Homo sapiens: one gene and its partners. The protein of the gene in region 1 interacts with the protein of each later gene in a pairwise test. Each region holds a gene or a part of one and is shown on either strand. Other genes may lie near its edges.

Evidence for each region.
Region 2: the proteins of TPRX1 (region 1) and ATXN1 interact in binary tests that used the Homo sapiens proteins (3 or more experiments, as listed by UniProt).
Region 3: the proteins of TPRX1 (region 1) and NELFB interact in binary tests that used the Homo sapiens proteins (3 or more experiments, as listed by UniProt).
Region 4: the proteins of TPRX1 (region 1) and OIP5 interact in binary tests that used the Homo sapiens proteins (3 or more experiments, as listed by UniProt).

Annotation. Positions count from the first base shown.
Region 1 is NC_000019.10:47,801,549-47,809,156, reverse strand, and holds the start of TPRX1 (tetra-peptide repeat homeobox protein 1), read left to right. Parts: upstream 1-4,605; 5' UTR 4,606-4,617; coding exon 4,618-4,642; intron 4,643-5,483; coding exon 5,484-5,653; intron 5,654-6,176; coding exon 6,177-7,382; 3' UTR 7,383-7,608. UniProt on the Homo sapiens protein: Transcription factor expressed after fertilization required for zygotic genome activation (ZGA), a critical event in early embryonic development during which the developmental control passes from maternally provided mRNAs to the expression of the zygotic genome after fertilization.
Region 2 is NC_000006.12:16,758,458-16,765,418, forward strand, and holds the start of ATXN1 (ataxin-1), read right to left. Parts: upstream 3,004-6,961; 5' UTR 2,841-3,003; intron 2,710-2,840; exon of another isoform or gene 2,681-2,709; intron 1,728-2,680; exon of another isoform or gene 1,600-1,727; intron 1-1,599. UniProt on the Homo sapiens protein: Chromatin-binding factor that repress Notch signaling in the absence of Notch intracellular domain by acting as a CBF1 corepressor. Binds to the HEY promoter and might assist, along with NCOR2, RBPJ-mediated repression. Binds RNA in vitro.
Region 3 is NC_000009.12:137,265,307-137,272,329, reverse strand, and holds part of NELFB (negative elongation factor B), read right to left. Parts: intron 6,454-7,023; coding exon 6,351-6,453; intron 6,000-6,350; coding exon 5,904-5,999; intron 5,387-5,903; coding exon 5,244-5,386; intron 5,091-5,243; coding exon 4,984-5,090; intron 250-4,983; coding exon 108-249; intron 1-107. UniProt on the Homo sapiens protein: Essential component of the NELF complex, a complex that negatively regulates the elongation of transcription by RNA polymerase II.
Region 4 is NC_000015.10:41,322,575-41,329,597, reverse strand, and holds part of OIP5 (protein Mis18-beta), read left to right. Parts: intron 1-7,023. UniProt on the Homo sapiens protein: Required for recruitment of CENPA to centromeres and normal chromosome segregation during mitosis.

The DNA of each region.
Region 1 (7,608 bases):
CAATCATTTAGTACATTATTACTCAGCACCTTTGAGCTTTTCCTATTACAGACATGGGGATTTGGGAGGGAAAAAAAAGCCCAACAAAGTCTCTGTGTTCAAGACACATTTATTTCAGCAAACAGCAAGCAGACATCCACCAGGCAAACAAAACAACAAATACATTAAAGATCATCATTTCTTACTAATTGGTTACCACTTCATCCCTTTCTTAAACTTTCATTAGCATTCCATAGTCTGAGGCTGCCACAAATTAATCATCTTCTAATTTGTGGGCGTGAATTAATCCAATTAACTCAGTTGATATTTCAAAGAAATGTTACACTGAACACTGATATCTGCGCTTATTCACAGCGGAGCAAGTATTTTCCCAGGATAAGTCTCTTACAATAAAACATTGAGGCCAGGCACGGTGGCTCACACCTGTAATCCCAGCATTTTGGGAGGCCAAGGTGCGCGGATCACTTGAGGTCAGGAGTTCAAGACCAGCCTGGCCAACATGGTGAAACCCCATCTCTACTAAAAATAAAATAAAAATTAAATAAAAATTTAAAAATTAGCCAGATGTGGTGGCAGGCGCCTGTAGTCCCAGCTACTCGGAAGGCAGGAGAATCACTTGAACCCAGGAGGCAGAGGTTGCAGTGAGCCGATATCTGCATTAAAGTGCAGAGCCACTGCACTTTAGTCTGGGTGACAGATCGAGACTCGGTCTCAATAAATAAATAAATAAAATAAGAAAATTGGCCAGGCATGGTGGCTCACACCTGTAATCCCAGAACTTTGGGAGGCTGAGGCGGGTGGATCACCTGAGGTCAGGAGTTCAAGACCAGCCTGGACAACACAGTGAAACCCCGTCTCTACTAAAAATACAAAAATTAGCCAGACATCATGGTGGGTGCCTGTAATCCCAGCTACTCAGGAGGCTGAGGCAGGAGAATTGCTTGAACCTGGGAGGCGGAGGTTGCAGTGAGCTGAGATCGCGCCATTGCACTCCAGCCTGGGCAAGAAGAGTGAAATTCCATCTCAAAACAAATAAAGAAAATAAAATAAAATAAGAAAATTACCCGGACATGGTGGTACTTGCCTGTAGTCCCACCTACTCAGGAGGCTGAGGTTGCAGGATCGCTTAAACCCCAGAGTTCGAGGTTGCAGTGAGTTTCGATTGACTCCACTGCACTCCAATCTGGGCAACAGAGCAAGACCCTGTCTCAAAAAAAATCATTGAGTCAAAGGGTACTATACACATTTCATCCTTTAATAGATGTCACAGAGTCAATTTCAAAAAAAAACCTCCAAAAATATTTTACCAACCTACACTTCATCAATGGCAAGAGAAAACCACATTCTCTGGGTCTACACTTGATCCATCTCTTTGATCTTGGCCAATCCACAGGGCAATATGCTGAGTTTTGCATTAATTTATATTTTTTATTGATATGTCATCCACGTAATATAAAAGTACCCACTTAAAGTATACAATTCAGGGCTGGGTGCCATGGTTCATGCCTGTAATCCCAGCACTTTGAGAAGCTAAGGAGAGCGAATTACTTGAGGCCAGGAGTTCGAGACTAGCCTGGCTAACATGGTGAAACCCCATCTCTACTAAAAATAGAAAAAATTTTTTACTGGGTGTGGTAACACACACCTGTAATCCCAGCTACTCAGGAGGCTGAGGCATGAGAATCACTTGAACCCAGGAGGCAGAGCTGAGATCAATCCACTGCACTGCAGCCTGGGCAACAGAGACTCTGTCTCAAAACAAATACATAAATAAATTTAATTAAATAAAGTATACAATTCAGGCCGGGCACGCTGGTTCACGCCTGTAATATCAGTACTTTGGGAGGCAAGGTGGGCTGGTTGTTTAAACTCAGGAGTTCGAGACGAGACTGGGCAACACGGCAAAACAAAAAGAAAAGAATAATCATAAAGTACAAAATGAAATGGTTTTGGCCGGGCGCGGTGTTTCACACCTGTAATCCCAGCACTTTGGGAGGCCGAGATGGGTGGATCACTTGAGGTCAGGCATTCGAGGCCAGCCTGGCCAACATGGTGAAACCCATTCTCTACTAAAAATACAAAAAGTTAGCTGGGCGTGGTGGTGCATGCCTGTAATCCCAGCTACTTGGGCGACTGAGGCAGGAGTATCACTTGAACCCGGGAGATGGAGGTTGCAGCAAGCCGAGATCACACCACTACTGCACTCCAGCCTGGGTGACAGGGCAAGACGCCATCTCAAAAAAAAAAAATTAAATCGTCTTTAGTCTGTTTGCAGAGTTGTGCCTCCTTCACTACAGTCAATTTTAGAACATTTTTCACCGTCCCCAATAGCTATCTCCATAGCTATTCCCAGTTGGTCCCAATTTTCCCTTCTCCCCAACCCGTAGCAACCACTAATCTGCTTTCTGTCTCTATGGATTTGCCTATTCTGGACACTTTGTATAAATAGAATCGTATATGTGCTTTTGAGTCTGGCGTCTTTCACTCGGCATCATGTTGGCAAGGTTCATCCATGTTGTAGCACGTATCAGAGCTTTATTCCTTTTCATGGTTGAGTAATATCCCATTGTGTAAATATATGACATTTTGGGTTTCTATTTTTTGTGGGTTTTTTTGGGGGATGTTGTTTTGTTTTTTGAGGCAGAGTCTCCCTCTGTCACCCAGGCTGGAGTTCAGTGGCACCATCTCAGCTCCCTGCAACCTCTGCCTCCCGGGTTCAAGTGATTCTCCTACCTCAGCCTAACAAGTAGCTGGGATTACAGGCTCCCGCCACCATGCTTGGCTAATTTTTTGTATTTTTAGTAGAGACGGATTTTCACCATGTCGACCAAGCTGGCCTCAAACTCCTGACCTCAAGTGATTCGTCCACCTCAGCCTCCCAAAGTGCTGGGATTACAGGCGTGAGCCACCGTGCCCAGCCACTTTTATTTATTTTGAGATGGAGTCTCACTCTGTTGCCCAGGCTGGAGTACAGTGGCACAATCTCCACTCCCTGTAGCCTCCGCCTCCCGGGTTCAACCAATTCCCCCGCCTCAGCCTCCCAAGTAGCTGAAATTCAGGTGCTGGCCACCACGCCCAGCTAATTTTTGTATTTTTAGTAGACAGGGTTTCGCCATGTTGGCCAGGCTGGTCTTAAACTCCTGACCTCAGGTGATCTGCCTGCCTCAGCCTCCCAAAGTGCTGGGATTACAGGCGTGAGCCACCGCGCCTGGCCATGCAGCATTTTATTTATCCATGCATCAGTGGATCGATGTTTTCAGCATTTTCTCCTTTTGGGCGATAGTGAATCATGCTGCCGTGAACTTGCTTATATTTAAATGTCTATTTTCACAAAATAGTACCAGTGAGCTTGTTCATCTGTTTATGTCTTTATTGACCAAATAAATAGCCATGGTGCAAAATCTCTGTGGTCACTACTGTGTTCCCAGCATGTCCTGTAGATGAAGCCGGACAATGTGTGCGATGAGGAATCATTGCTGGGGATGCTGCTTTCTACAGCAGAACTCTAAGTAGCAGGTGAAAACAATGAGCGAGGCCCGTGGTAACAATGTCTACGTTTTATTGAATTTTGAAATTGATTGCATGAGTCATTTCTAGTTCCCTGCACCATGAGCCTTGTCAATCTCTCTAATCCCTGAACCCACGTGGGTCCTGCCATGGGGAAATGAGGACAGCCAGGTGTCTGACAGAGAAGACGCATCTCTGAGGGATCCGATCTCTGTAGACCAAGGTCATGGGTCCCCTGTATCATCAGCAGTAGGTTCATTCACTCACAAGGGCAGACCAGCAGCGGTCCATGGGCACGTCCATCAGACCTGTGCCCCCTCCTGATACAGGTCTATGCAGCTTGGAGAGGCTGGGCTCATGTGAACCCAGCACACGAGCCCCGTATATAAACTGGAATAAACCAGCACTGAGGTCATTTACTCTCCAGGAGAAACCAACAGAGGTCTATGTGAATGCCTATCAGAACTTCACCCCATAGGCAAATCCACTACAGAAACCAAACCATTATCAGCAGGGCCAATGTGTACTAAGCTCTGCTTACACCTATAGGCACCTAGGGAGCAATTTTTGGAATGGATAGTAGGGGCCAGAGTGGCCTTGAGGTACCAAAGAGGAGGTTGCAAGGTCATCCAGGAAGGAGGGATAGTGGCTGGACAAGGCAGGCAGCCCAGGAGCCAGGAGGAGTGGGTAGACTCACCGGCATTGGTCACTCGGGGCCCCAGCCCTGGGAAGGAACAAGGATGACTCCTGGGGGCTGGCTGGCGGTGCCTCTCCTGAGATGGGGACCCCAACCACAGGTCACGATGTTGACTCCCCCAACCAAACCCGCATGGAATGCCACCTCACCTGGGCTAGGGCCCATGAGGGTGAAACCAAGGCTGTGTTGTCCACTGAGGTTCTCCAGCTCCTAGCACAGCTCAGCAGGCAGTACCTGATCAGTGATGAAGGATTAATCCATCATTCAACTCCTCCAGGGGGCGGGACTGCAGGGCAGGGTGGGAAAGGGAGGGTCCCGGCAGGGTGGGCCAGGGTGGGCACAGCAGAGAAGTGATTTAAGAGCCAAGCCCTTGTCAGTACACACTTGTGTTTGGGAACAGATCAGGACTCAGGATGCAAGACCCTGGTCATCTCCAAGGTGAGCGGGGACAGAGGTGTGAGGGGTCTGGGCTGATCCTGTGGCTGAGGCTGCAGAGTGCAAATCTGGGCAGCCAGAGAAGGGCTGGGCCTGTGCGGGCGGCTTCCTGTCCTGCAGACGGGGGAGAACTTAGTGGTGTCTGGGAAATGAAAAATCATGCAGCTGGGTGTAGCGTCTCACGCCTGTGATCCCAGCTCTTTGGGAAGCCAAGGTGGGAGGATCACTTGAGCCCGGGACTCTGAAACCAGCCGAGCCAACATAGTGGAGACCCGTCTTTAGCAAAAATACAAAAATTACCCAGGGGTCGTGGTGCACACCTGTGGTCCCAGCTACTCGGGAGACTAAGGCGGGGGGTTCCTTGAGCCCAGGAAGTGGAGGCTGACTTGAGCCGTGATCACATCACTGCACTCCAGCCTGGGTGACAGAGCGAGATCCCCTCCAAGAAAAAGAAAGAAGGAAAGAAATTAAACCATGCAGTTGAGTGGAGCAGAGGACTGGGCAGGTGGCGGCTCCCCTGCAAGTGTCAGGGTCCCTATAACCCTTGGATGGGAGGGGACGGGGCAGCTGGGGAGGGTTGAGCAGGCCTGAGGCAGCCCCGTCTGCTCCGAGGTGAGGCGCCTACGCTGCCTGCCTTCCCAGGAGCTGTTATCGCGCCTATTTCCTAGATGTGGACCCTGAGGCCCAGAGAGGTGCAAGGTCTGGTCTGGATACCAGGCTGCTATCCGCGGTGCCGCCCCAGCCCACACTGCCTGGGCTCCTGGCCTGGTGCAGGGGACGGGGTCCCTAGGGGGGCTGGGGGCTGCCTGGGGGTTTCTGTGACCTGTTTCCCTCCCACCCCCAGGCCCTCCCCTGGCCCTGGACCCTCCAAGGAGACAGCGGCAGGAGCGCACGGTCTACACTGAAAGCCAGCAGAAAGTGCTAGAATTTTACTTTCAGAAGGACCAGTACCCGAACTACGACCAGCGACTGAATCTGGCGGAGATGCTCAGCCTCAGGGAGCAACAGCTGCAGGTCTGACCCCCACCCCCACCCTGCCCGCCCCAGTCACCCCAAGGAGCCTCCCCACCGCTGTCACTCACCGGGGCCTGGCCCGCCCGACCACCTCCCGCCCTGCCACGCAAGGGGTCCCGCCAGTGTAGACCAGGGCTGCATCCTGAGTCCTGTTCCAACTCTATGCTAGCCCAAACTCGCCCACATGATCGGCCCAGGCTGTCCCCCACGGGGTCTCCCGGTGCCCGGACCTCAGGCACCCGTGAGAACCCGCGGTCCCTCCCCTCGAACCCTCCCTGGCCCCCCGGGCACCTGGGCGGCAGACCCCGCTCCTCCCATCCCACCCCACCCTCCTCCCCCTACTTTTCCCTCCCTCTTCCCTCCATTCTCCAGGCCTTGGAGCCGGGGCCCTCTTTTGGTGGGGTGGGGGATGGGGGGCTGTTGAGCACAGGGAGAGGCTTCAGGCTGGCCCCGACCCCAAAAGGCTCACTGGGCCGCGCGAGCCCCTCCTTCACACCTTCTCCCTGTCCCCTCTGCCCCCCAGGTGTGGTTCAAGAATCGCCGCGCCAAACTAGCTCGGGAGCGGCGGCTCCAGCAGCAGCCCCAGCGCGTCCCTGGGCAGAGAGGCCGAGGAGCCCGCGCTGCGCCCCTAGTCCCTGCAGCCTCTGCCTCCGCACCTCAGCGGGGCCCCTCGGGAATCCTTCCAGCGGCGGAACCCACGATCTGCAGCCTCCACCAGGCCTGGGGTGGCCCTGGGTGCAGAGCCCAGAAGGGCATCCCAGCTGCCCTGAGTCCAGGCCCTGGCCCGATCCCTGCCCCAATCCCAGGCCCAGCCCAGATCCCAGGCCCACTCCCTGGCTCAATTCCAGGCCCAATTCCAGGCCCAGCTCAGATCCCAAGCCCGATCCCAGCCCCAATCCCAGGCCCAATTTCAGGCCCAGTCCAGATCCCAGGCCCATTCCGTGGCCCAATCCCAGGCCCAATTTCAGGCCCAGCCCCGATCCCAGGCCCAATCTCAGGCCCATTCTCAGGCCCAAACCCAGGCCCGATCCCAGGCCCAAACCCAGGCCCGATCCCAGGCCCAATCTCAGGCCCGATCCCAGGCCCAATCTCAGTCCCGATCCCAGGCCCGATCCCAGGCCCAATCTCAGGCCCAATCTCAGGCCCAAACCCAGGCCCGATCCCAGGCCCAATCCCAGGCCCAATCTCAGGCCCGAACCCAGGCCCGATCCCAGGCCCAATCTCAGGCCCGAACCCAGGCCTGATCCCAGGCCCAATCCCAGGCCCAATCTCAGGCCCAGGCCCAATTATAGGCCCGATTCCCAGCCCAGCCCAGATCCCAGGCCCAGGCAGACTCCAAGGCCCAGGTCCCATCTTAAGTCCTGGCCGGATGCGAAGCCCTGGCTCACTTCCAGGCCTAGCCCCGATTTTAGGCCCAGGCTCAGGCCCAGGCTCAGGCTCAGTCCCAGCTCCAATCCCAGGCCCAGGATCACTCCCAGCCCCAGCCCCCTTATGGCCTCAGAGCCCCGATGCCTCCGACTTCTTGCCAGACACCCAGTTATTCCCTCACTTCACAGAGCTGCTCCTACCCCTAGACCCCTTGGAGGGATCCTCAGTCTCCACCATGACCTCTCAGTACCAAGAAGGGGATGACTCTATGGGCAAAAAACACTCAGGGTCTCAGCCCCAAGAGGAGGGTGGCTCTGTGAATGAAAATCACTCAGGCCCCAGGTTATTACTGGATTTATAGGGGGCCTGTGCCTGCAAAGTTCTTCAGATCCCAGAGGGCCTGGAGTGGCTGATCTACACTGCTGGTGACTTTCTGCAGTGAATGCATCACCCTTTACCCACCCTGCTGCAGGTGGACATTTGCTGTCTTCACTGTGCAGCTATCACAGGTGGCTCTGCTGTGAATGTGCCTGCCTGTCATTTGAATTGAGCCTGAGCGTTTCTCTGCTGGGATTGGAGTCGCTGCT
Region 2 (6,961 bases), on another chromosome or scaffold:
ACTGCACCTAGGAAGAACAGCTTGTTGGTCTCCTTTATAAAAGTTGAGTAGCTAGAAGCCTCATTCAGTGTCTCCCATCCAAATGACTGAAAGAAGATGCAATTGAAATAGTGGAGTCTCTCGTCTGGCTTGGGCAGCATAAATGCTGTGCATAAAACACTTGGAGTAGTTCAGGCACAAGACAAACCCACCTGAATGGACGAGGAACACTGTCTGTTGCCATGGCAGCCTGATCTAATTACATGAGTGATCAGGACTGGAGTAAGTGCACCGAAAACCTACACCACTGACAGGCAGCCAGGAGGTTCAGGGGAGCCCTTCAACCTCTGCTTTATGTAGAAGATGGCATTCAAGTCCATTTATTTGCGGAGCTGCTAAAATATTGACTGATGCATGCACAGTGAGAGGGCAATCAGAGGAGATTAAATGCCACAGCGCTAGCCGTTATGGTGCAATCCCTTTCCAAGAGTTCCTGTGCAGGATTTTCTCTTCTCTCTGGTGGTTTCCTCAGACATAAGCTTCACTCCAAAAAAAGCTCAAGTATCAAACTACCTTTACCCATCAAATAAACCGAAGGGTGGGCTTAAGGGGGGCTTCTAGGAACTGCAGCCTCCTAAAAAACCCAAACAGAAATGTCTCAGCTAACACTGTTGAAAAAGTAACTAGCTGTGCCTAAAAATAACCAAGTAACTACCCACTGCTGTGTGCAATATATAACAATGATGTTTAAATATTAAAAACAGCCTGCATTATAAAACACAAATGTCATTGAGATGTGACTACTAGATTGCCAAAGGAGAACTTATTTGCATACACACATTCCCGTGCATGCACGACAGGATGTGCAGGGAGAAAGCCACTGTAAGGCATTAGTTTTTATTCTGTGGGTGTAATAGGGTCTTCTAATTTTGCTAATTGTATCCTGTGGATCTCGCAGGGAAGCTAAGAATCTCTTCGGGGACAGAACCAGTTTGGAGGAGTCCCTACTGCACAGCATACGGTAAACAAAATAAAAATAGCTTGCCTTTCTTGTTAGCCACATCGCGCATTATATAACCAGCTTCTTCCGACTGTTTTTTTTTTTTTTTTTTTTTTTTTTTTGCCCTTACTACTCTTCAGCAATTTCCCTCTTCTCAAATATTTATATTACCCTTTTATCTGTAGGATTATATACCAAGAAAGCAAAACAAAACAGAGCAGCCACGGGCTCGAACCGAATCCCCGCCGTCCTTAGAAACGGATTTTTTTTTGTTTTGTTTTGTTTTCTGGCAGAGTCTCGATCACCACCCTACTTCCACCCCCACTAAGGTTCTTGCTCAATCTCCCTAGAAAACCTGAATTGTTTCATCCCTTTCAGTCAGCCCCCTACGTGGTCTGAAACAAAATGAAAGCACAAGCCACGGAGTTTAAGAAGGCAGCCTGAAGGCGGGGGGCTGAAGAGGGGTCGGGGCGCTGCAGAGTCAGCCAAGTAGCCAAGGAAGGGCCCCCTCCGCGTCGCGACGGCCCTCGCCCCCCGCCCGGCGCGCGCGCGCACAAATACACACACACAGTCACTCACACACTCACTCACACTCACGCCGCGCTCCGACACCGCCTCACCTCTCGCTCCGCCCGTCCGGCCCCCTTCCCTGCCCCCTGCGGGACCGGCCTGCGCGCAGCACTGGAACCACGTAGGAGGAGGCGGCGGCGCCCCCGGGAGTGGCAGAGTCTCCGGCCCGGCCCAGAGTGAACGAGCAGTGGGGCTCCAGGGCGCATCCCAATCCCCGCAGCGCCTCCTCCGCGGCGGCCGCCGCCTCCTCCTCCTTCCCCTCCTCCTGGCTTCATTCACCCTCCCAGCAGCCGCGCAGCCGTTCACTCCCGGCTCAGGGCAGCGCCTGCCGCGGCTCCTCGTCTCCTGCCGCGGGTGCTGGCGGGGGCGCCGGCCCGGACTGGGGCGCTCGCGGGCTCCCGGCTCCGGGCGGCGGCTGCCGCTGCACATGATCAGGAAGCGGCCGCACCAACAGGGCGGCGGTGGCGGCGGCGGCCAGGGCCGTCACCGCCACTCCAGCCGCGCTCCAGGCACCCGCACACCCGCTACCCCCGCGCGGTCCCCGAGGCCACCCCTCTGCGCCCCCCGCCCGGCACCCGGCCGCGCGCAAAGTCCCGTCCCGGCTGCAGGAGCAGTCCCTTCCCCGCCCGCAGCCGCACACCCGGCGAGGCCGGCCCTCCGAGGGGAGACCCCCGCCCCAGGGCGCCGAGGCCGGGCGACCACCCGCGGAGAAGTCCAGCCCTCCGTGAGACCCCCTCTCTCTCACCGCCCTCTCCGGGGAGGAGGAATGGGAAGAGGGCGGCCGGGAAAGGGACCACCCCCCAACCCCAGCCGCCGCCTCCCCCCTGCGCCACCCGGAGGGAGGAGGACATGGCTCTCCGCACTTGCGACCGGACCAGCAGCCGGGGGAGCGGGGCGCCGCCGCCGCTCTCCCCGCCCGCGCCCCCCGCCCGGGCGCGCCCCCTAGCCCGGCGGGCGCCCACCCAGCCCCTGACAGCCCCCCCGCCGGCCGCCCCTGCGCCCAGAGTGGGGGTGTCGGCCCGGGAGCCTGGAGCCGGGGACGGTTGTATGTACACACATACACACACACACACACACACACGCACACACACAGAACACGACGCGTCGATTTCCTTCGCTCCTCTTCCAGCTGTTTTCCGTGCAGCCGATTGGGGTTTTGGGTTTGTTTGCTGGTTGTTGCTTTTGCCCCTCTCGGGAGATCGGGGGAGGAGGGATTTTAATCTAAATAAGGGGAGAAGGGAATGGGGGAGGGGGGAAAGAATCGGAGGAGGAAAAAAAAATAGTCACTTACTGTAAAGTGTAAATGGATCTGGGGTTGCGTGGGGAAGGGGGGGCAGAGGGAGAGAAACAATGTCTTGCGGCTGCTGTTGCTCTGGCTGCTGCTCCACGGGGCTTGTTTTGGATCCCCCTGCAGTGAAACAGGTCCTGTACGGCTCCGCCACTGTAGTAGAAATGATGTCTGCGGTATACTCTGCTCTCTCCTCCTCCTCCTCCTCCTCCTCCTCCCCCTCCTCCCGCTCCCCTCCCCTCCCTCCTCCCTCCGCCCGCCCGCCCTCCCTCCCTCCCTCGCGCTCTCTCGCGCTCGCTCGCTCGCTCGCTCCAGTATGTAAATGTGTAATAGAAGCCAAATATGGAGCAGTTGGCTGCCGCCGCCGCAGCTCAAGGATCCGACTTCATGGGGGTGGGGGGCACCCTCTGGCGGGCGGCCCGGCGAGCCGCACAGAGCACGGCGAGCGCACCGCGCGGCGGCCGGCCCGCGCCCTTAACCCTTCGCTGCGCGCCGCCCGGGGAGGCGGGCACCTTTCCCAAAGAGTGGCTCGGGATGGGGTGCGGGGGAGGGGAGACGCGGACCGGAGGGCAAGGTTCCTTCCAGGTTTGGGAAGGGGGCGGGGAGCTGGGCGATGAGGTAATTTGAGCGGTGACGGGTCGGTCCTCGCGCGCCTCCCTGGGTCCCTGCACCTAGTTGGAGGGGACTGAACGACAACGGGGCGCTACTCAGGCAACCTGGGGGACTCCCCCAAGGGCTGTCAGGCTTCAGCTGGGAGCCGATGCAACACCCCAGCGGGGAGGGGAGGTCGGCCCATTCTAATCCCGACGTGTCCTTGGTCCCAGGCGCTCGGAGCAGCATCTGAGAGGGCTCACTCTGATCATCAGCTGCACGTTAAGCCACAAACCGGCGTCGCTTCGGCGTTCCGGAACCCAGGCCTGGGGGCCGCGGGGATTGCCTCTGCGTGCAACTCCGGAAAGTTTCAAGGGGTCCCCCGACTGCACAGGTACCCTCACCTTTCCTGCCGGCGAACGCTGGCGACCGCCCGACCCTGCCCTCTTTCTCTCTTCGCACGCAGGTCCGGAAATCGGCTTTGATATGGAACTACTCCGCTCTAGCCTGGAAAGGAGACCCGCGCACTCCTCTCGCAGCTAATTTCGGATCATTAATTTAATCGGAAATGAGGTAACCAGTGTAGGAGACAGAGAAAGCAACCGGAGCATCAAATGGCAGTTCTCGAGAATCGACGAGGAACTTAAATCTGGACTCAGGGTTTCAGTGCGGTCTCCGACTCCCACCACCCCGCCCCTCCGCCTGTCTCGCCGCCAGGTGTGACCTCCACGCGAAGGAATCTTCTTCGGATGGGTGCACCTTGCCAACAGGTGTGGCACCTGGAGGACTAGGAGGCGCCTCCAGACTAAGGGCGCTCAGTGCGGCGTTCTTGTTGCAGATGATTCTGGAAGGCCGGTAGGTGTCGGGCGACATTTGACCTTCTTCAGGTGCTTAGAACTAAGTGTCTGGAAACATGATCCTTTCGCGTAAGTTTCTTTCTGAAAGCCACCAATCTTGACTGTAAGCTGTATTTGAGAGATCTTTTGGCTGAGTTTACTTATGACCTAACGGTTAGTCACCAACTGAGGCAGGGCACAGGATGACCAAAAAAAAAGTGTCAGTTTTTACACAACTCTGGCCTGCAAGAGCCTACGTGCTTCATAAATAAAAATAAACATACGAGCGAGGAAGGTGCAGAGCCCCGGAAATATTTTTTTCTCACATTTTTGAAATACCATGCACATATATGTGGCTATTTAAGTATAACTACTAGTGTTCACTCTTACTCATTTCTACAACTTTTTTTTTTCCATTTAAAAATCGATTATTGTTACGGTTTAAACCTCGGGTTGGTCTAAAGTGACATTGTTGGTCTCATTACAGCCTCTAGTGGACAGTTAACATCAGTTTCCTGAAAAGGCTCTGACTGGTTTTGTTTTCGTTGACAAGCTTTGTCAAGGTGAAGGTTAGTACGTAAGAGCATAACCGGGTAAAATGTCCCCTCACCCCTATCCTCACCCCCGCCCCCAACACCCTGCTTGGCAAAGACGACTTCAGAAAGGAGCAGAAGCTTGTTGGCTTTATATAGAAAAGACGTATGCTTTGTGCTGCAGGTATTATTATTACTGGACTGTGAATAAACAGAAAGCTTCTGCTATTCATTTCAGTTTCAGACAGCTTTCATAAAAACTAAATTCATCTCAAATATTTTTATAACAGAAAATATTGGTTGCCATGTTTTTGGCTTAACTGCGATGTTTTTATTCCAACTCATAATCTGCAAACTGTCCAATCCACCTCCACTCTATTTTTAGACATCTTACATTTAGATAATTTTCAGTTAAAAAAAAGCTAATATTGTAATTTTACGTTGGCACAAGCAGTTAATTTACGTGATTTTAACAACCTTAAATTAAAACACATAATTCAGATTACAGTTAGTCAATTAATTTAAATGTTCTCTCAAGGAAGCTAAATATGTATATTACCCAAATGGTAAAAACAATTAATAAGAAATGTGTCATTTACTTTCTTAGCCATTAAGTTTAAAGCCATAAACTGCCACCAAAATCTGTAACTATTTCTTCCTGCAAGATCCAACATAAACACCATACTCATGAAACTGTCTCATTACCTTTAGTACTGAAATATTTTGTTTTCAGATGGCAAAATATTAAGTGTACAATCACAAATAACAGGCACTGATTCTTTAGAAACAAGACTTTCTCGTGCAAATAAAAACTCAATGAAAAAGGGCAGAGCTTCCAAGAAGCTAGTAGACAAATATATAGTACTATAGTCCTACTCATAAGGCTGGTGTTATGTTTGTAAAAGCATAAGTCAACCTTTGAAATTACAGGAAATCGATAAATAAGGCCTGATGAGCTTGACTCGTATCCTGTGTCATAGATTGCTTAAATACCATGAAAAATAATTGTAATCACATATCTATTTTACTGTTTTGGTGGTATCTACTCTTGAAGGTGTTAAATGGGCCAGCAAGTATATATTATATAATTACATATTACACCCTTACTTAAAGTGTAGTTTTCAAAGTCGCCACAGCAGCACTTGGGAGCTTTTTAGACATTCAGAGTCAAGGGTTCTACCCCAGACATACCAAATCAGAATCTGCCTTTGAACCAGGCCCCTGGGTGATTTCTAAACACATTATCATGTGAAGAACACTGGTCTATACCACAGGGATCAACCTAAATAAATTTGGGCACAAGTGCAGAAGTTAATTCCTCTATTTATTTCTTTTTTGCTCCTTTTTAGTAAGTACAGCCCTTATTAATTTGTGCTTTTCAATGAAAAATTATTATGTTATATGCTTTGGATAAATACTACTGCACTGTAAGTGCACACATCTGCATCATTATTGCCAAAAAAGAATGCTCTGCTGAGGAATGTACTGGGGTCTTGAACATGAACATTTTCTTCATGGCAGCAGAGGGAGCACAAGAGTGCTTAATAAAACCAGTGCACAGGTCTCTCCAAATCATGACAGATTTTACATTGTAGTATATGTTTTCATTGGAAGTAGCCTGTTATGTAGTTCAAAATGAAGCAAATCAACTGAGCAAACACAGATAGGCTTACCAGGTCATAACAACTATGTAACTGAACAGATTGAAAGTTGAATAAAATAAAGATAAACTTCTTTAGAGTTTTAGGCTTGAATTCTTAAAAGAAAGTGGACCTCAAAAGTGAAAAAGATGCCTTAGCTTTGCTCAAAAACAAAGATAACACAACACAGAATCAGGCAACCCTAAGATGCCTTAGCTTTACTCAAAAACAAAGATAACACAGAATCAGGCAACCCTAATAGTAGCTCCTGTTTATCTAAAAACAGAGTCAGTTCACTGGACCCTACATCAGGTAACTTAATTTCATTTGGTGTCATACATGTTGGTTAAGGTCCATGCGCCTTTTGCTGTGTTTACACTCAGAATAATTTTAGGGGTTTCTCCTTAATGCTTGCAGTGGTGAGGATTTAGGTTTCAGTTATACCTACGTAGTATTTCATACTTTTCACTACTCTTCCATATTGCATCCTCAAAAACTCCCTTGAAGCAGATAACATACTTGGT
Region 3 (7,023 bases), on another chromosome or scaffold:
CACCTGCGGACCCTCCGCCCCAGGCTGGGGACAGCAGCCACCTCTCAGGCTGCTACGGACAAGAGCTGAGAGGACAGAGCGGGCCGGATGGTACCCAGCAGGCCTACCTTGGAGAGGCGGTGAGGAAGAAGCCATCGAAGAGGCTGCTGCAGAAGTCCTCAAGGGCAAATTCGTCGGCCAGCAGCGCAAGGTTGCCCGTGAGCAGGTGGAGGAAGATGTCGCCAAAGGCCAAGTCGCCAAAGGTCTCCACTGCAGACACAGCAGGCATCAGCCCAGTGCCACTCACCCTGCCCACCCCAGAGGGCACCCTTGTCCTCAAAGACCTCAGAACCTACTTCTGGGGGTGCTCACATGAGAGTTCTCAGTTGTTCTGAGATGAGAAGCACAGGGTCTCAGCAGGTGAAGAGGGGGGTGGGAAGTGGACAGAGGCAGGCAGGGGGTGGGACCTGTGGCAGGGAAGCAGAGCTGCAGCCCAGGGACAGGAGGGTGGAGGGAGGGGGAGACAGCCCAGGGACAGGAGGAGGGTGGAGGGAGGGGGAGACAGCCCGGGGACAGGAGGAGGGTGGAGGAAGAAGGAGACAGAAAAACGAGGTGCTCCTCCAGTCCCAAAAGGCCTTGCCCAGCAGCCGAGCCCAGGAGAAACAAGCCTAACAAATACAGGGCCGGCGCCAGCTGCAGAGAGTTCTCCCTGACTGCCAGCTACACTGAACCACAGGAAAGAGAACGAAACTCTTCCACATTCTTTTCTGAAGCCAGACACCAAAACACAACAAAGACAGCATTCGTGCCCACAGACGCCTCACGTGCGACCACAGCACAGAAGCCACGGTGTTGGCAGACATTTGCCAAGAGCCAGCACAACGCCCCAAACGGGGCCCCTGCAGGGAGGGAGGGCGGCCGCCTGCAGACTGATGCCTGAAGGAGCTGTGGCCAGGCCACATGGAGGTGACGTGTGCGGACAGGTTGAGGATGGCCTTCCTAGTATCCCGGATGGGGCCTTTATGAGGACAACCCAGCTGGCGCCACCTGCGCCCAGAGTGACAGAAACATTTCCAGGAGACCCAGGCCCCCGAGGTGCCTGCCTGCCACATCTCACAGGGCCTTGGCCGGCCACATGGCCAGGTGGCCACGGGACACGTGGCAGGCACACAGTCCCGACCAGGGGATCCAGCAGCAAGGCCCCACTGGGCAAATGCCCTGATTCCTGCAACTCCGGGGAACCCAAGACTGCGAGACAGGAGAGGGGACAGCAGGCGCATCCCAACCCTGACGGGACCGTCCACACAGCAGGCAGGAGACACCTGGAGAAGCGCAGCCACTGTCAGGCAGTCAGTCGGCAGAGGAGCGGCAGTGAACCTGGCTCAGATGTGACAGTGGCCCGTGGTCCGTGGTCACTGGTTTTTATTTTTTTTGAGAAGAGTCTCACTCTGTTAGCCAGGCTGGAGTGCAGCGGTGCAATCTCAGCTCACTGCAACCTCCACCTCCCGGGTTCAAGCGATCCTTCTGCCTCAGCCTCCCTCAGCTGGGATTACACGCGTGCGCCACCGCGCCGGGCTAATTTTTCTATTTTTAGTAGAGATGGGGTTTCGCCACATTGGCCAGGCTGGTCTGGAACTCCTGACCTCAGGTGATCCGCCCGCCTCGGCCTCCCAAAGCGCTGGGATTACAAGGTGAGCCACCATGCCTGGCCAGTTTTTTAAAGGCATTTAAAGACAGTCTTATTTTTTATTTGTTTTTTTTGAGACGGAGTCTCGCTCTGTCACCCAGGCTGGAGTGCAGTGGTGCAATCTCGGCTCACTGCAACCTCTGCCTCCTGGGTTCAAGCGATTCTCCTGCCTCACCCTCCCGAGTAGCTGGGACTACAGGCATGCGTCACACACGCGGCTAATTTCTGTATTTTTAATAGAGATGGGATTCCACCATGTTGGCCAGGCTGGTCTGGAACTCCTGACCTCAGGTGATCCACCCGCCTTGGCCTCCCAAAGTGCTAGGATTACAGGCATGAGCCACCAAGCCCGGCTCCCCGCCCTTTTTTTTTTTTTTTTTTTTGAGACGGAGTCTGGCTTTGTCGCCCAGGCTGGAGGGCAGTGCCGTGATCTCGATTCACTGCAACCTCTGCCTCCCAGGTTCAAGCGATTCTCCTGTAAACGCATCCTTCTTTTGTAGAGATGCCTACGTCTGCAGCCTGCATGCTGTGATGTCTCAGATTTACACCCAGACATCGTGCTGAGGGACAGGCGGCCACACGCAGACCCCACGTGGACCCCGGGGAGGTTGGAGATGGTGCTGGGTCCTCACCGTACCATGCTCTTGACTTCGTATTCTTTCACAAATTCCCACCACAAAATGTTAAAAAATAAACAGGAGAGAATTCTAAAAATCAACATCCATTCTTACTAGAACCCGCTAAAAACTTAAGAACACGCGTGCTCTCCCCAAATGTGACTGAAAATGCACATCCCACCCCGTGGGGCAGCCACGTACTCCGAGAAGCTGCACTCCTGGTTCCCAGCCTGTTTCTAGCCACAATCAAATGAGAGAAAGAAACAGAAGCGCACGGAAGGCCTCCCAGGTGAGTCTGTCATTGTGCGAACTCCACAGTGACTGACACAAATCCAGAAGGTGCCACCCACTGCACACTGGGCTGGGCCATGGCCTCATGCCCCTGAGCTAGACACCTGCACAGCACATGGCTGTACTGAGTACTGAAGGCTGCTGGGACACAATGGCAACTGTGTATCTAAATAGAGAAAGTGGAGTAAAAATACAGTATTGTCAGCTTATGTGACCGCGTGGTCGTATATGTGGTCCACGGTAGACAGAATGTTATGTGACACGTGACTGTACTGCAGTGGGCAGGCCAAGGCAAATTAAAGTTATTTATAACTATGTTCCCGGAAGTCTCAAAAAATAAACAAACCGGCTCTGCCCGGCGGCCGGCAGCACGATGTCCCAATGCCCTCAAGAGCCTCCCTGAGCCTCCAGAAGGAGCGGCAGTGTTGGCACCCGCAGAAGCCCAGGAGGTCATGTCTGCCTGCGCTGTCTAATGCCACTGTCTGTGGTCATTCGTTCCAGCAACAACAGGAAACCCAGGCCCAGGCAACCCAAGCTCAGTGAGAGGATGGCTGGGGACAGGTTAATACCCACAGGTAACTTCCTCCACAAAGAAAGCTGGAAAACGCATGCACGCGCCATCCTCAAACACACCAGCCACCGAGAAACACAATAGGCACGTGCTGTGGTGTGGACGTGTCCCCAAGTTCACCATCGGAAACCTGATCCCCAACGCAACACTGCTGAGGTCGTGAGGGCTCCGTCCTCACCAAAGCGTTCTCGCTGTTAGCACAGGAGTGGCTCCTGATAAAAGGGTAAGTGTGGCCCCTTCTCTGTCTCCGTCTGTCTGTGTCTCATCTCTAGCTCTGTCTCTCATCTGTCTCTGTCCTGTGTCTCTCATCTGTCTGTCTCCATGTCTCTCCTGTCTCTGTCTCTCTTACCTGTCTCTCATCTCTCTGTGTCTCATCTCTGTCTCTGTGTCTCTCATCTTTGTCTCTCATCTTGGTCTGTGTGTCTCTGTCTCTCATCTCTGTCTGTGTCTGTCTGTCTCCCCTGCCCGTGCTCTCTTGCCCTCTGCCTTCCACCATGGGATGACACAGCAAAAAGCCCCAGCCAGATGCAGGCCCCTTGACCTCGGACTTCCCATCCCAGCCCGCAGAACTGGGAGAAGTCCCTGCTCTTTGTTTTTTTGAGACGGAGTCTCGCTCTGTCGCCTGGGCTGGAGTGCAATAGTGCAATCTCCACTCACTGCAACCTCCACCTCCCAGGTTCAAGGGATTCTCCTGCTTCAGCCTCCCAAGTAGCTGAGATTACAGGCACCCACCACCATGCCCAACCAATTTTTGTATTTTTTTAGTAGAGACAGGGTTTCACCATGTTGGCCAGACTGGTCTCGAACTCCTGACCTCGTGATCCGCCCGCCTCAGCCTCCCAAAGCACTGGGATTACAGGCCTGAGCCACCGTGCCCGGCCGTCCCTGCCCTTTCTACACTACTCAGTCTCAAGTCTCTGTTAGAGCAGCATAACGTGGACTAAGACAGCAAACCCCAGACAAGGCCTGAGTCAGCAAGGAAGAGCCCAGGGTCTGTGTCACAGTGGGTACCGCAAGGCTAAAGAGGCCCCATCTCCCATGGGACCCACAGCAGGCTAAAGAGGCCCCATCTCCCAGGGGACCTGCAGCTCTACTCTTGAAGGTGCCCATTTGGACCCTTCCTCTTCTTCCTGGCTTGCAACAACCCCTCCCCCGTCAAGGCCCCCAGGAGGAAGTGGGCCTGTCACCACCTGGGGTGGGGCACTGGGGCAGGGGATCTCTCTCCCTCCCCTTTGCTCCATTCTCTGAGCACCTGAGGGGTCCCAAGCCCCTCGCCAGTTAGGATGAAATAAAGACAGCTCTTACATCACCTTTTTGTGGGAAAGCACAAAGTTGAACTCCCTCTCCCTTTCCTAGTAAAATAAACTACAAACAAAAGTAAAAGTGAAAACGAGGCTGGGAGTGGTGGCTCACACCTGTCATCCCAACACTTTGGGAGGCCGAGGCGGGCGGATCATGAAGTCAGGAGTTCGAGACCAGCCCAACCAACATGGAGAAACCCCGTCTCTACTAAAAATACAAAAATTAGCCTGGCACGGTGGCACGCGCCTGTAATCCCAGCTACTCAGGAGGGTGAGGCACGAGAAATCACTTGAACCTAGGAGGCAGAGGCTGCAGTGAGCTGAGGTTGCACCACTGCACTCCAGCCTGGGCGACAGAGCAAGACTCCATCTCAAAAAAAAAAAAAAAAAAAAGGTGAAAACAAAGCTAGCAAAGTTGGAGGTGGGCTGGGGAGACAAGGCAGCTCCTGGGGGCCCTGGGGCCCGCACCCTGGGCAGGACTGCATACGGCAGCTGCCGCAGGGAAGACACAGCCAGGCACCGCCCGTCAGGACTTACCCAGCCCGGGCAGCAGGCGGAGGAGCGCGTTCTTGTTCCTCTGCTTGGTGATGTGCAGGACGTAGTACAGCCCCACCTCGCAGGCCATGCGCTGCTCCTGCAGAAACCTGCGCCCGGGGCGCCATCAGCCCCACCTCAGCCCCACCTCAGCCCCACCTCAGCCCCACACCGACCCCTGCCCAGCCCTGAGGCAGCCCCCTGGGCAACAGTGCCATCCCTGCGCCACGGCCACCCCTGCACCATGGCCCTACAGCCCGTACTTAGTGAAGCTTTCGGGAAGTGTGTTTGGATATGAGACTGGGGCTTTCTCCTCAGCCGGAAGTTTCTGATCCACATTGAAAGTGTAGTCATCCACCAGGAAGGACATGAGCATCGGGAGGAACCTGGTGATGAGCTCTACCTCCTACGAGGAGGGGAGGCCATGAGCGGGCGCGGGCCCGGGCCCTGCCCCACCCCACCCTGACGTGACACACACCCTGCCCCTGGCCCTCCCACTCCCCCAGATACCTCACCGACCCTCCCTCCTCTCCAGGTCCCCAGGTCCCTCTTCCCACCTCCCGAGTCCCCCACCCAGGCCATCTCCTCAAACCCCCTTCTAGGTCTGGACCCACATGGAGTAGTCACCACCTGTGGCCAGCCATGGTCCATGGAGACACCCCCAGAACAAGCCACGGTCCACGGAGACACCCCAGAACCAGCCACGGGCCATGGAGATACCCCAGAACCAGCCAGGGTCCACGGAGACACCCCAGAACCTCCCTGGTGGGCATTTTCCCAAAAGGAAGGTGGGCAGCTCCAGGAAGGAAGCTTTGGGACCAAAGGGGCCTCCACAATCACCTTGCTAGCGCCTCCCCCTCCACCCCACTTCCAGCCCACAACCCCTCGTAGGAAACTGGCAGCCCCCACAGGAGGCTCGTTACCATCTTGGGCTCCTTGAAGACCTGGCTGTCGATCATGTCCCAGGCTCCCTGGCCCAGCGCCAGCAGCCGGAGCAGCAGCAGGAGGTCGGGGCTGTCCTGTAGGGAGGACGGGCTCAGCGCCTCTCCCAGGCAGCTGTGTCCTGGCCATGGAGCTCCTCTGACCCTACTCGTTACTCAGCAGGATCTCTGGTGCCCATGGCCAGGACCACACGACTGCGATCACCAGCCCCACACACGGGGTGAAACGCAGTCTCACAGCGGGGAAGCACACGCCTCTACCTGGGCCACTGCAGTCCACATCCCCGACCACCAGAGCAGCCAGCAGGGCGGCCACAGGGCCCCAACAGCTGCCTCCACCTGGCCGCTGCTGTCCACACCCTGACCACCCAGAGCAGCCAGCGGAGTGGCCGCATGGCCCCGACAGCTGCTGGCCAAGCCCACACTCACCCTGGGCAGTGTCTCCTGGCCGACCAGCTCCTGCAGGTGCCTGACTGTGCTCAGTGCCAGCGTGTTGATGGCGAAGGGGTCACACAGGATCATGGACAGGTCCCTGGAAGGAGGCCGCCCTGGCATTAATGCGACGCCTGTTGCCCCTCCCTTCAGCGGCACAGTCCTCAGGAGGGGTGGCCTAGGCTGAATTCAGGACTGGCAGCGGGTGCCCATCACATGCTGGGTTTCTTACAAAAAGCTTAAGGATGGCCGAGCGCGGCGGCTCAGCCTGTCATCCCAGCACTTTGGCAGGCCGGGCGCGGCGGCTCAGCCTGTCATCCCAGCACTTTGGCAGGCCGAGGCGGATGGATCACCAGGTCAGGAGACTGAGACCAGCCTGGCTAACAAAGTGAAACCCTGTCTCTACCAAAAATACAAAAAATTAGCCGGGCGTGGTGGTGGTCGCCTGTGGTCCCAGCTACTCGGGAGGCTGAGGCAGGAGAATCACTTGAACCCGGGAGGCAGAGCTTGCAGTGAGCCAGGATCGCGTCACTGCACTCCAGCCTGGGCAAGAGAGCGAGACTCTGTCTCAAAAAAAAAAAAAAAAAAAGCTTAAGGTTTGCAATTTGTCCTTAACCTATTCAAAGATTTTTCAAATTAAAAAGTTAAAAAAACAAACAAAAAAAAGGCT
Region 4 (7,023 bases), on another chromosome or scaffold:
TTACACCTATAATCCCAGCACTTTGGGAGGCCAAGGCAGGCAGATCACAAGGTCGGGAGTTCGGGACCAGCCTGGCCAGTATGGTGAAACCACGTCTCTACTAAAAGTACAAAAATTAGGGGGGCGAGGTGGCAAGCGCCTATAGTCCCAGCTACTTGGGAGGCTGAGGCAGGAGAATGGCTTGAACCTGGGAAGCAGAGGTTGCAGTGAGCCAAGATCGCACCACTACACTCCAGCCTGGACGACAGATCGAGACTCCGTCTGAAAAAAAAAAAAAAAAAAAACTAGAGGGAAAGCCCCATGTGTTTCTGTATTTGTGGAGTAAGATGAGCTATATGGGACTTACGAAGAGGGTTATGAAATGGCACAGCTCAAGACAACTTGATTTTTTTCTAAGTGTAGGTTCATTACCTAGATGGGGTCAGAGAATGAATTAAGAGGATGATTAATGATGCAGCTAAAAGAGCATAAATTTTAGAGACAGCAGACTCGGGTTCTTTTTATTCTTTTTTTTTTTTTTTTTTTTTTTTTTTTGAGATGGAGTCTTGCTCTGACCCAGGCTGGAGCACAGTGGCGGGATCTTGGCTCGCTGCAACCTCCGCCTCCCGGGTTCAAGCTATTCTCCTACCTCAGCCTCCCGAGTAGCTGGGATTCCAGGCGCACGCCACTATGCCTGGCTAATTTTTGTATTTTTATATTTTTAGTAGAGACGGGGTTTCACCATGTTGGCCATGCTGGTCTCGAACTTCTGACCTTGTGATCCACCTGCCTCAGCCTCCCAAAGTGCTGGGATTACAGGTGTGAGCCACCGCACCAGGCCTTAACTTTACTCTTAATGAGGCATGTGAAATAAATTGATCCCTCTCAATCTGTCATATTTGAATACTCCTAAAATATACTCCCTCCGACATTTATTTAAACATTCTACAATTGGCATGAACCTCTTAGATTCAAAGTCATAAAGTAGACAGATACAAGGTTACTTCCGTCTACATTTTATTGTTCTCTTACTGGTAGAGGATTTATTGTAACTAATTTTAAAAAGGATTATTATAGTATGTTGACACTTAGAAATAGCTTTTTTACCCTGAGCTTTTGTTGTGCTCAACAGCATATTTAAATGGAATTTTGTTTGTATTATAAGTGAAGTACATTTTTTTCTAATTGTTATGGCAAATTCAAACCCGAGAGAAGAATATAATGAACCTCTGTCTACCTGTCACTAAACTAGAGCACTTATCAACTCTTGGCCAATCTTGTTTCATCTAAAATCATAGTTGGCTTATCATGCTGGCTCACGCCTGTAATCCCAACACTTTTGGAGGCCAAGGTGGGAGGATCACTTGAACCCAGGAGTTCAAGACCATCATGAGCAACATAGCGAGACTTCATCTCTAAAACAAAACAAAATATCTATCCTCCACAATGTTTTGAAGCAGATACCTGAAATTACATCATTCCATCCATAAATATTTTGGTAAGGATCTTTATAAGAAACTTTTTTCTATTTATTTATTTTTTGAGATGGAGTCTGGCTCTTTTACCCAGGATGGAGAACAACCTCCGCCTCCCAGGCTCAAGCCATCCTTTCACCTCAGCCTCCCAAGTAGCTAGGACTATAAGGCATGCACCACCATGCCCAGCTAATTTGTTGTAGAGATAGGGTTTCAACATGTTGCCCAGGCTGGTTTTGAACTCCTGAACTCAAGTGATCTGCCCACCTTTGCTTCCCAAAGTGCTGGCATTACAAGCATGAGCCACTGCACTCAGCCTTTCTTTTCAATTATTTTATTTTATTTTTTATTTTTTTGAGATGGAGTCTTGCTCTGTAGCCCAGGCTGAAGTGCAGTGGCAGGATCTTGGCTCACTGCAAACTCCGCCTCCCGGGTTCAAGTGATTCCCCTGCCTCAGCCTCCCGAGTAACTGGGACTACAGGTGCATGCCACCACATCTGGCTAATTTTATGTATTTTAGTAGAGACGGGGTTTCACCATGTTGGCCAGGATGGTCTTAATCTCCTGACTTCGTGATCCTCCCACCTCAGCCTCCCAAAGTGTTGGGATTACAGGCGTGAGCCACTGCGCCCAGCCTCTTTTCTTTTTAAAGATATATCCCAATTCTGGCTGGGTACAGTGACTCACGCCTGTAATCCCAGCACTTTGGGAGGCCGAGGCGGGAGGATCACGAGGTCAGGAGTTCAACACCAGCCTGGATGACATAGCGAAACCCCATCTCTACTAATACAAAAATTTGCTGGGCGTGGTGGTGGGCGCCTGTAATCCCTGCTACTGGGGAGGCTGAGGCAGGAGAATCGCTTGAACCCAGGAGGCGGAGGTTGCAGTGAGCCGAGATCACACCATTGCACTCCAACCTGGGTGACAAGAGGAAGACTCCATCTCAGAAAAAAAAAAAATTTAAACATACCACAAACACTATAATAAGCCCCAGGTACCCAGTTTCAACAGTTATTAATATTTTGACAATTATTTTCCTCTATACTCTTCACTTTTTTTTTTTTTTAATTCCTGGAGTATTTTGAAACAAATCACATACAGTAAATCAACTCTTCATCACTTTGGTATTACTTCCTGTTGTCTTGTAGATTCACAGACTGTTATAACCAAAAAAATAACATAATCTAGTTGACCTCATTCTACTGATAAGGATATGGAGAAACAGTTGTATTTGGTAGTGTATTGGAAGTATTTTCCTCCTATAATATTCTCCAGTGCCCATGATCCAATGTAATGATGGAAGGCCCAGCAAGCTAGGTGATGCTAACCCTTAGTGGCAGAGCAAGGCAACCCAAAGCAGCTCAGCACGGATGGTTAGAGACGTAGTACCTACTGTGGTAAGATTGTTAAAAACATGGGGCCGGGCACGGTGGCTCACACCTGTAATGCCGGCACTTTGGAAGGCCTAGGTGTGCAGATCACCTGAGGTCAGGAGTTCGAGACCAGCCTGGCCAACACGGGGAAACCCCGTGTCTAGTAAAAGACAAAATTAGCCAAGCGTGGTGGTGCACGCCTGTAATCCCAGCTACTCACTTGGGAGGCCGAGTCAGGAGAATCACTTGAACCTAGGAGACGGAGGTTGTGGTAAGCCAAGATCACGCCATTGCACTCCAGCCTGGGGAATGAGCGAAACTCCATCTCAAAAAATCACAAACAAAAAACAATAAGGAGCCACAGACTATACACATGATCAGAGGCAAAGTGTGGGAATGAAGTTCTTTTTTTCTTCTACAGTGGTCAACTTAGGATAAATTTTTTTAAATCATAAACCATGGTTTAGCCACTGAGGCACCGCTATATCATTAATCTCACTATCTGAACTTATTGCAATTTTCTTTTCCTTGTTTTATAGTAATATTCAATAAAATATACTGTGTTTTACTGCACTTGCAGATACTGCTTTTTTGTTTGTTTGTTTTTTTGAGATGGAGTCACACTCTGTCACCTAGGCTAGAGTCCAGTGGCATTATCTCGGCTCACTGAAACCTCTGCCCCCTGGCTTCAAGCAATTCTTCTGCCTTAGCCTCCCTAGTAGCTGGGATGACAGGTGTGCCCTACCACACCCAGCTAACTTTTGTATTTTCAGTAGAGACAGGGTTTTGCCATGTTGGCCATGCTGGTCCTGAACTCCTGACCTCAAGTGATCTGCCCACCTTGGCCTTCCAGAGTGCTGGGATTACAGGTGTGAGCCACTATGCCCAGCCCAGGTAATGCAATTTTTTTTTTTTTTTTTTGAGACGGAGTCTTGCTCTGTTGCCCAGACAGAAGTGCAGTGGCATGATCTTGGCTCACTGCAACCTCCACATCCCGGGTTCAAGCAACTCTCCTGCCTCAGCCTCCCTAGTAGCTGGGATTACAGGTGCGTGCCACCACGCCCAGCTAATTTTTGTATTTTTATTAGAGATGGGTTTCGCCGTGTTTGCCAGGCTGGTCCTGAACTCCTGACCTCAAATGATCCACCTGCCTTGGCTTCCCATAGTGCTGGGATTACGGGTGTGAGCCACTGCGCCCAGCCCAGGGACTGCATTTTTTTTTTTTTTTAACAAATTGAAGGTTTGTGACAAGCTTTTGTTGAGCAAGTCTGTTGACACCATTTCTAACAGCATGTGCTCACTTTGTGTCTCTGTGTCACATGTTGGTAATTCTGGCAGTTTTTATTTTTATTATTTATTTATTTTGAGACGGAGGCTCGCTCTGTCACCCAGGCTGGAGTGCAGTGGCGTGATCTAGGCTCACTGCAAGCTCAGCCTCCTGGGTTCACACCATTCTCCTGCCTCAGCCTCCCGAGTAGCTGGGACTTACAGGGGCCCGCCACCACACCCGGCTAATTTTTTTGTAGTTTTAGTAGAGATGGGGTTTTACCATGTTAGCCAGGATGGTCTTGATCTCCTGACCTCATGACCTGCCTCCCTCGGCCTCCCAGAGTGCTGGGATTACAGCCACTGCGCCCGGCCAATTCTGGCAGTTTTTAAAACCTTTTCATCATTATGTCTGTTAACACTGATCTGTGATCAGTGATCTTTGCTGTTACTATTGTAATTGTGGGATGCCACAAACCGCACCCATTGAAGATAGCAAACTTAATCAATACATGCCTGTGTTTTGACTTCCACCAACTAGCCATTCAGTCTTGCCTTCTCAGGCCAATTAATAACCCAACAATGGCCTTTAAGTGTTCAAGTGAAAGAAAAAGTTGCAAGTCTCTCATTTTAAATCAAAAGCTAGAAATGATTAAGCTTAGTGAGGAAGGCATGTGAAGTCATGCCAAATTGTGAATATGAAGAAAAAAAATGGGGTTAGGCGCGGTGGCTCACGCTTGTAATCCCAGCACTTTTGGGAGACTGAGGCGGGTGGATCACATGAGGTCAGGAATTCAAGACCAGCCTGACCAACATGGTGAAACCCCATCTCTACTAAAAATACAAAATTAGCCGGGCATGGTGGCGCACACCTGTAATTCCAGCTCTTTGGGAGGCTGAGGCAGGAGAATTGCTTGAACCCGGGAGGCGGAGGTTGCAGTGCACCAAGAACACACCATTGCACTCCACCTTGGGCAACAAGAGCGAAACTCCATCAAACAAACAAACAAATAAATAAATGGAAATTAAAAGTGCTATTCCAGTGATAAGCTGATATGGAGAAAGTTTGAGTGGTATGAGTAGAAGATCAAATCAGCCACAACATTCCTTTAAACTAAAGCCTAATCCAGAACAAGGCCCTAACTCTGTTCAATTCTGTGAAGGCTGAGAGGTGAGGAAGCTGCAGAAGAAGTTTAGAGTATCAAATGTTGGCTCGGTGCAATGGCTCACGCCTGTAATCCCAGCACTTTGGGAGGCCGAGGTGGGTGGACTGGTTGAACCCAGGAGTTTGAGACCAACCTGGGCAACATGGTGAAATGCTGTCTCTACAAAATACAAAAAAATTTAGCCGGATGTGGTGGCGCACACCTATAGTCCCAGCTGCTTGGGAGGCTGAGAAGGAAGGCTGGCTTGAGCCCAGAGAGGTCGAGGCTGCAATGGAGCTGTGATTGTGCCACCACACTCCAGCCTGGGTGGGTGACAGAGCAAGACCATCTTAAAAAAAAAAAAAAAAAAAAAAGCAGAGGTTGGTTCATGAGATTTAAGGAAAGAAACCTTCTCCATAACAAAAGTCCAAAGTGAAACAGCAAGTACTGATGCAGAAGCTACAGAAAATGAAAGTGGGTACACTAAAGAACATATTTTCAGTGCAGATGAAACAGCCTTCTGTTGGAAGAAGATACCATCTCAGACTTTCATAGGTAGAAAGGAGAAGTCATTACCTGGCTTCAAAGGAGCTGGTCACAGTGACTCACATGTGTAATCCCAGCACTTTGGGAGACCAAAGTGGGAGGATTGCTTGAGCACAGGAGTTCAAGACCAGCCTGGGCAACATAGCAAGAACCTGTCTCTACGAAAAATTTAAAAATTAGATGGGCATTTTAGTGTGTACCTGTGGTCCCAGCTACTTGGAAGGCTGAGGTGGGAGGATCACTTGAGTCTGGGATGTCAAGGCTGTAGTGAGCTGTGATTGTACCACTGCACTCCATCCAAAAGAAAAAGAAAAAAAAGCTTCAAAGGACAGGCTTTCTTGTTAGGGGCTATTGCAGCTGGTGACTTTAAGTTGAAGTCAATGCTCATTTACTATTACTATCTATAGCTACTATAGATAGTTATTCCTCTGATGGATCTGGGCAAAGTAAATCAAAAACCTTCTGGAAACCCAGCTAAATTTTGTATTTTTAGTAGAGACGGAGTTTCACCATGTTGACCAGGCTGTTCTCAAACTCCTGATCTCAAGTGATCTGCCTGCCTCCCAAAATGCTGGGATTACAAGCGTGAGCCATTGCGCCCGAATGGAAATTAAATTAATTTCCACTGAGACATTTGTTTATAAGTACTGTGCTTTGTCTGAATTAATTAATTCCTACGTGGAATTTCAAATTAATGACACTTTATTTCATATTTTGCTTTTTGGTTAACTATATTCACAAGATTACATTACTATATGTGTGGTGTGGGTGTGGGACTTCATTTACCAATAAACTCAATATATTGTTATTTGTTCTTTTTTAGTATCCACTGACATGAATATTTCTTTTTAGCTATGTGATTTTTTTTTTTCTTTTTTAAGATGGAGTTTCGCTCTTGTTGCCCAGGCTGGAGTGCAGTGGCACAATCTCCGCTCACTGCAACCTCCGCCTCCCAGGTTCAAGCGATTCTCCTGCCTCACCCTCCTAAGTAGCTGGGATTACAGGCACCCGCCACCAGGCCTGGCTAATTTTTTTATTTTTAGTAGAGACAGGGTTTCGCCACGTTGGCCAGGCTGGTCTCGAACTCCTGACCTCAGGTGATCCACCCGCCTTGGCCTCCCAAAGTGCTGGGATTACAGGCGTGAGCCATCATGCCCGGGCTAGCTATGTGATTTTTATGTTGTATTTTGTTAATAGAATTCTCCTAGCCTGGGAAACAAAGTAAGACCCCATTTCTGC